Homo sapiens: one gene and its partner. The protein of the gene in region 1 interacts with the protein of each later gene in a pairwise test. Each region holds a gene or a part of one and is shown in the gene's direction. Other genes may lie near its edges. The genes, in order: C10orf67 and TMEM19.

Region 1 (3,823 bases):
CCCAGCCTGCCTGGCTAATTTATTTTTAATACAGGGTCTTGCTGTGTTGCCCAGGCTGGTCTCAAACTCCTGGGCTCAAGCAGTCCTCCAGCCTCGGCCTCCCAAAGTACTGGGATTACAGGCATGAGCCACCATACCCGGCCTGGACTGCAGATTTTAGAAATGGTGATCAGGGAAGGCTTCACTGAGAAAATGACACTGGGGTGAAGACTTGCAGGCTTGAGGGGGGAGCCCTAAGGATCTATCAGGCTAGCAAGTGTTCCAGGCAGAGAGAACACTGGGTAGAAAGATGGTGCCTGGATGTCCTAGGAGCAGCAAGGAGGCCAGTGTGGCTGGAGCAGAGAGGGAGAATAGTGGAGGTGAAGTCAGAGGGAAGGGGGACGGTGCCTGTGGCGAGGGACTTTAGACTACCTTAAGGACTTCAGCTTTTACTTTGAGATGGGAAGCCATGAGGGGATTGGAAAAGAGGAGTGACATGATTTGATTTATCCTTCAATGGGATTACTCTGACGGCTGTTTAGATAATAGACTATAGTGAGGACGAGGGCAGAAACAAGGAAACAGGAGACTATTACAATATTCCTCATGGAAGATGACCATGGGGTAGCAGTGGTTGGAGGTCCGGAGAGACTGTGATGAACAGGTAGAATGGAATTGCCAGTAACCCGGATGGGGAGGATAATGAGATGAACAGGTCTGAAGGGAATATCATAAGCTTACTTCTGGTCATTATATGTCAGCAGTGACTATTAGACATCCATTTAGGCTGTTAAGTAGGTAGTTGATTAGATGAGTCTGAAGTTAAGAAGAGAGGTTCAGCTCGGCTGTATCAGTTTGGAAATAATTAGCACAAAGATGGTGTCTTAAGCTGAGAGCCTTGGTGACATCAGCCAGGAAGTGAGTGTAGTTAGAGAAGTTTATGAGCCATGGGGCACATCAAAGTTCTGTGTTCTTTGAAGAGGAGTAAAAGGAAGCAATATTCTTATTTAGCCCTGAGAAATATGCCACAGTGAAAGTTTAACACACCTAATGTTGTCTTCATTGACTGATTTATTAATAAGCATTTGTAGGATGGACAATTCTAGGATTCAGTGAGAAGAGTCATTGCATTTTATTAATACATATTCATAGGTCTGTTTTCCAAAATAAATTAGGACGTTAATTTTGTATGTAATTTATTTTAAAAAACATAATTATCTTCCCCAAATTCTGTTTTATGCATAACCACCAACTTATTATTCAGAAATAGAATTGCTGAGACTATAAATAAAGACTGTGTAGGAACCACTTAGCTAATTTGTTGTGATGTGGGTTTCCATTCTAGGTAGCAGGGTTGTTAGCTAAAATTAGAGACATTTGGAATTTGAAGGGACACTGAAGAATAAATCTTCCTCATTCAGTTAGATTCTGAATGAGCTGGAACTTTTTGAGTCAGTCACATAAAGAGTTAGGACTGGTGAAATCGGAGAGTCATGGGCTTATCCTCATCAGGGAGTTAGAAGAAGAATCTGCCATTTCCGGCTGCCCCTCTGTCACCCAGGCTGGAGTGCAGTGGTATGGTCACAGCTCACTGCAGCCTCTGACCTCTGAGCTCAAGGGATCCTCTCACTTCAGCCTCCTGACTAGGTGGAGCCGCCGGTGTGTGCCACCAGGCCCAGCTAATTTTTTTTTTTTTTTTTTTTTGTATTTTTGTAGAGACAGGGCTTCACCACGTTGCCCAGGCTGGTCTCAAACTCCTAAGCTCAAGCAGTCTGCCCACCTTAGCCTCCCAAAATGCTGGTGTGAGCCACCACACCCAGCCTGAACCTGATTTTAAAATATCATATTGTATTATTGTAATATTATGGTACCAGAAGGAATACCTGAAAACATAATTTCAAGTTTCTAAATCATATCCTGAAAAAAAATTGGTAAAAACTATTCACACTCCATAAACCACCCATGATAGGTCTTTTGCTTAAAATGGGAAGGAACAGAAGAACATACATGTTCATGCTTAATGAAAAATGTGGCTGAATAGTAAAAAGGAGCCGCTTAGCACTGGGTAGGGTAAAGGATTGCATTTCTAGACTGGAAAAGTGAATCACTGGGATCTGTTAAATGTGCAGCAGTGTAGACTATACAGAAACAGAATTAGTTCCCATGGCTGTTTATATTTACTATATTGATGTAGCACTCAGGGTCCAGACAGGAGGCAGAAACCTCACTGCTAATTTCAACAGGGACTATTTCCTGTTCTCTGTTAAATAGTAAGAAGGATTTTTAACTAGTGAAAGGCAGTAAGGTGGTAAAAGAAGACTCTAGACAATACACTGATAGCAAACACAAAAAGCAGCTATGACCTCCAGGTCTGAGGAAGAGGAAACAGGGCAGAAACTAAGGAGTTAGAAGACCCGCCCTCAAAGGCTGAGATTAGGAATGATACCTCTTTGGAGAAGACATGGTGGGAGAGAAACTTGCCAGAGGGTGTGACAACTGCTGGTCTGCAGGGATGGCTTGCCCAGTGGCTGCGAAACTTGCTGAAAGGTACAGACAGGTCAAAGTTCCTTACCTAGCTGCGAGATCCAAATGTTCGTTCCTGGAAGTCCTGACTTTTAAAAGTTCTGCCTTTTTTTTTTTTTTTTTTTTTTGCTGCCTTTTTTCCATTAATCTTTATTACTGGGCACGGAAACACTAAGAGGCACCCCAAAGAATCCTCTGGGTTCCAGACAGAGTTCTCCTTGACTCCGTTGTTCACCAGCAACCCAATTGCCCCTTGGTATTCAGAATCAATCCACTTCAGCCAGTAGAGTGACTCCCTTTTCTGCCTTTGTTTCAGCAGCATAAGGATCACAAAGTGACCAGTCATCAGTGTCATCTAATTCAATAGAATTTCTGTTATGTTTTCTGCTGGAAACATTCTTCCCTTGTGAACTAAGACTTCCAAACCAGCAGATCCTAAAGTTGCAGAGACAGGAAACTATAATTTTGGGCGTGAGTTATGAGGCATAAGAGTGAGAGGTGCCTCTTCATTCTTGGACCTATGACTGTAGGAGAGATAGCACCATATACTGTTTCAAAGCATATACTGCATCCTGTGAGACAGAACTGCATTCTTTCATGGATTTGCTTCTCCCAAATATTGCTGGCAGTGCAGGTGTGTGCCACCATGCCCAGCTAATTTTATTTTTTTTATTTTTATTTTTTTGTAGAGACAGGGTCTCACTATGTTGCCCAGGCCATTCCTGAACTCCTGGGCTCAAGTGATCTTCCCGCCTCGGCCTCCCAAAGTGCTGGGATTGCAGGCGTGAACCACTGTGCCTGGCCTTAAATGAATCTTCAGTAAGCTATTTAACCTATTAGGCGAGCCACTTCTGGGTGATGGGTTATATGATAAGATCACTGAATTCCATGGGCATGAATCCATTGCTGCCTGTCTTTTGCTGTGAAATGAGTTCCTTGATGGGAAGTGGTGCTGTGAGAATACCGTGATGATGGATAAGATGTTCTGTAAGTTCATGCTCGGTGGTTCTGGCCAGTGCAGTATAGTCAGGGAATGCAAATCCATATCCAAAATAAATGTGTGTTCCGGTGAGGATGATGGAAGAAGTTCAGTGCTATCAACCTGTCGCTAGGTGGCTGGCTATTCCCTGTGGTTCATGCTGCCACGTTGGGAGCTCAGTATTGATCTCTGCTGTTGACTAGTTAGACACTCAGCACCTGTGGTAGCCAGGCCAGCCTTGGTAAGGGGAAAACCACATTGTTGAACTCCTGACACCATGGCCATTTTGTTCGAGGGCCATCAAGCAAGCAGGGGTGGCTGCAAAAGGAAACTGAACGATAT
Region 2 (3,823 bases), on another chromosome or scaffold:
AAGCATGTCCTTAACTTACTTTCAGTAGTAACTGATAGTTCTAAAGTCAGGTAGCAAAAATATAATATGCATGTTTCTAAAAATTATCCTAGTGCTATAACATGCCACTTGATCTGCTTGAGCATAAAGGAAATCTGCTAGATTATAAACTCCTTGAGGACAAAGAGTATCTTATGCTTCTGTGTCCCATGTTTCTTTGAATAGTGCTAGATACATAATAGATGATTAGGAATAGATGTAGTCTGATTTTTAAAAACCTTTGCTTTTTTCCTAATTATTTCATTCTATGAACTGTTTATCTTTTCTTCTTTTTTGTAAAAAAAAAAATTATGGCCAGGTATGGTGGCTCACACCTGTAATCCCAAAACTTAGGGAGGCCAAAGCAGGCAGATCACTTGAGCCCAGGAGTTTGAGACCAGCCTAGGCAACGTGGTGAAACCTCGTCTCTACTAAAAATACAAATATTAGCCAGGCATGGTGACAGGTGCCTGTAATCCCAGGTACTTGGGAGGCTGAGGCAGGAGAACCGCTTGAACCCAGGAGGCAGAGGCTGCAGTGAGCTGAGATCATGCTGCTGCACTCAAGCCTGGGTGACAGAGCGAGACCCTGTCCCAAAAAAAAAATTTTTTTTTAGAGGCAGGGTCTCGCTCTATCACCCAGGCTGTAGTGCAGTGATGCAACCATAGCTTAGTGCAGCCTTGAATTCCTGGGCTCAAGCAGTTCGCCTGCCTCAGCTTCCTGGGTAGTAGCGACTACAGGCACGCGCCGCCACACCCAGCTTTTCTTACTGTTTGGAACTTTTTGTTTCCTTAAGGATAAAAAAAAATCTAATGCTGATTTAAAGTATATCATAGTAGTTGGGAATATTATCCTAGAGTATGACTGCAAGTCACTTAAACTCTCAGTGTTGTACTTGTCCTGTCTATAAAATGTGAAGGAATAATGGTATCTATAGCAATGAATTATCATGAAGTGTTATCCATGTAAAATGCTTAGCACAGTACTTGGCATACAAATATTTTATAGATGTTAGTTATTATTACTGTTTTCCTTCCACTACTGCTATTCACAGTGATATAGTTTGACCATGTCTCCACACAAATCTCATCTTGAATTGTAGCTCCCATAATTCCCACATGTCAAGGGAGGGACCTGGTAGGAGGTAATTGAATCATGGGACAGGTCTTTCCCGTGCTGTTCTCGTGATAGTGAATAAGTCTCACGAGAGCTGATGGTTTTGTAAAGGGGAGTTCACCTACACAAGCCCCCTTGCCTGCCGCTATGTAAGATGTGACTTTGCTCCTCATTTGCCTTTGGCCATGATTGTGAGGCCTCCCCAGCCATGTGGAACTGTGAGCCAGTTGAACCTCTTTTCTTTATAAATTACCCAGTTTCAGGTTTGTTTTTATTAGCAGCGTGACAGCAGACTAATACACACAGTTATAAGAAATTTTACTTTGCTACATCATGACTTTAGTGTGTCTAGGATTTAGAAGTAAGAGTTACAGAACTTCCTCAGGATCTGGGTATTTAGAACCATTCATGACAGAAACATATACCTCAGTGTTAAGAGGATTAGGCAGGGGTTCAGTCACAGTCAGTCTCTAAGCTGCACACTGAAGTGGAGGGCTCTGGTCTCTTGGAGAGAGAGCGAGCATTGCCAGAATAAGGAGAGGGTCACATGAGGGGGATTTGTGGCAAAGTGTTTGTGGAAGAGCACAGCAAGAGGGGGTGTTGTCAGGAAAGGCCACTGGTGGTGCTCTGTGTGGTTTCACAAGGGTGGCCTGACCTCTTTTTGGTCACTATACTTTGGGTCTGGTTTCAGTCTTTCTGAAGTAGAAGCCTCACTCTGTCATGTACCCAGAGTTGATTAGAGCCTAGAAAACTGGTTGAGTGTTGCTCATTGTCATAAAGGATTGCTATATGAGCCAGAATGCCACTTCATTAATCAGATAGAAGAACTACCAGGCAGAAGAACACAAACATCACTGTTCAGGCATGCCCTATTCTTGTAGTCAGGCCACTTGAGAAGTCAGATTATAATTAGAAGGCTGCTTTGGTGAGTACAAAGTCTGAGAAACAGTTATGCAAATCCACAAATCAAAGGTTCCCCTCCCTTGGACATGGTTCAAGAAGTCTGCCAACCTCTGGTTCTTTTGGCCTTCACTTTCTACATTTTGGGCTAGCCAAGTAAATTATTATAGAATATGTATGAAGCAATAGGTGAGCTTTGAGTTTATTAAATTACTATGAAATTCCAGTCCTGCCTTTCTCTTTTATGCCTCCTGGAGATTACCCAGGTCACCCTGGTTGGAATTTGGGGTATAACTCTACTCCCATTGTCAGAAATTTGTAGACAGTGTCATTTTACTCCCCCAATGCTATCTGTTAGGTACAGAATTTACCTGTTTTAGGCTCACAAGGCAACCATAGTCCTCAAGTCTTCAAATTATTTGGGAGTGCCCTATTGTCATATATATGAACCCCTTATCAATGATATTTAGAGATCTGCAGGATGGAGAGGTAGAAAAGGTATGAACAGGAGATAGCAGTTACTAATCTAAAATGTAGACATAGGTAGGAGTTGCCAAAAGTTCCAAGCGATCTTTACACTGCATGAAAGAAACCATTCCCTCAAAGCTTGTCTTGTTCATTTCCTCAATCTGAAGCTGTCACCAACATGAACATTAATTGCTTCATGTGGTATTTTAAGGTGGCTGAAGTAAAAAGGATATAGATGCCATTTGTAACATCTCAGTGTAGGTTGTGTAGGGCTCTTCTACCTTGGGTTTGTTTAGAGACGGTGGAACAAATTGTTAACAGTGAATATTCATGAAGAGGAGGAGGGGAGACACTTTGACTTTCAGTTTGTATACTTCCATGTGTTTTGACTTTCCCCTTCAGTAGTTGCATACAACTTTTGTAATGTTTTAAAAATCAGTTGAAAAAACTTAAAGGTTGGATAACAATATTGTAATATTTATCATTATTATTGTTGAGCTTTTGCCACTGGAACTGTTGCTGTTATTAGTATCCATGATATTAGGTAACACTTATTAAGGACCTCTTACATCCTGGATAATATAATAAGCATATTACAAAAATTATCCCTGACTTTTTACAGCAAGCCGGTAAAGTCAGAATTCTGATTATTCTCATTTCACCAATGCAAAATTGAGACTTAAGGAGGTTAGGTAACTTATCCTAATCTTGAAGAGGTAAGTGAAGGAGCCACAGTTTGAACTCTAGACTGTTCAACTCCAGAGCTGAAGCACTTTGTTATTATTAATACTTTATATCAAGTTACCCTGTTTCTGTACTCTCGATTAAAAGGTACCAAAGTTAAATACCAGTAATTGAGTATCTCTGGAAGGGTCAATGAGTAACTATCTCATTGGTTATGATATCTGAACTTTGAGCTAAGCAATGGAAAGGGTTATTATAGAAAAAGAAGGCCAGGTGCTGTGGCTCACTCCTGCAATCCCAGCACTTTAGGAGGCCAATGCTGGGCAGATTGCTTGAGCCCAGGAGTTTGAGACCAGCCTGGGCAATATAGTGAGACCCCATCTCTATTTCTAATTTTTTTAAATTAAGATAATTTTAAAAATATTATCTAAAATATTATCTTACATTCATATGGCATTGCTTGAAAGGAGATTAAAATATGGTAAAAAATGTGTACTCAAAATGGCATTCAGTTTACTGCTTGCTAAGAATTTAATTGGTAAAATGCAAATTGCTAGAAATGTACATTTCAGGTTATAATATAAAAATAATGGAAAAAATCCATTCTTTTTTCACAGCATTGATGTATGAATTGAAT

The links.
Region 2: the proteins of C10orf67 (region 1) and TMEM19 interact in binary tests that used the Homo sapiens proteins (3 or more experiments, as listed by UniProt).

Annotation. Positions count from the first base shown.
Region 1 is NC_000010.11:23,338,210-23,342,032, reverse strand, and holds part of C10orf67 (uncharacterized protein C10orf67, mitochondrial), read left to right. Parts: intron 1-3,823.
Region 2 is NC_000012.12:71,692,582-71,696,404, forward strand, and holds part of TMEM19 (transmembrane protein 19), read left to right. Parts: intron 1-3,823.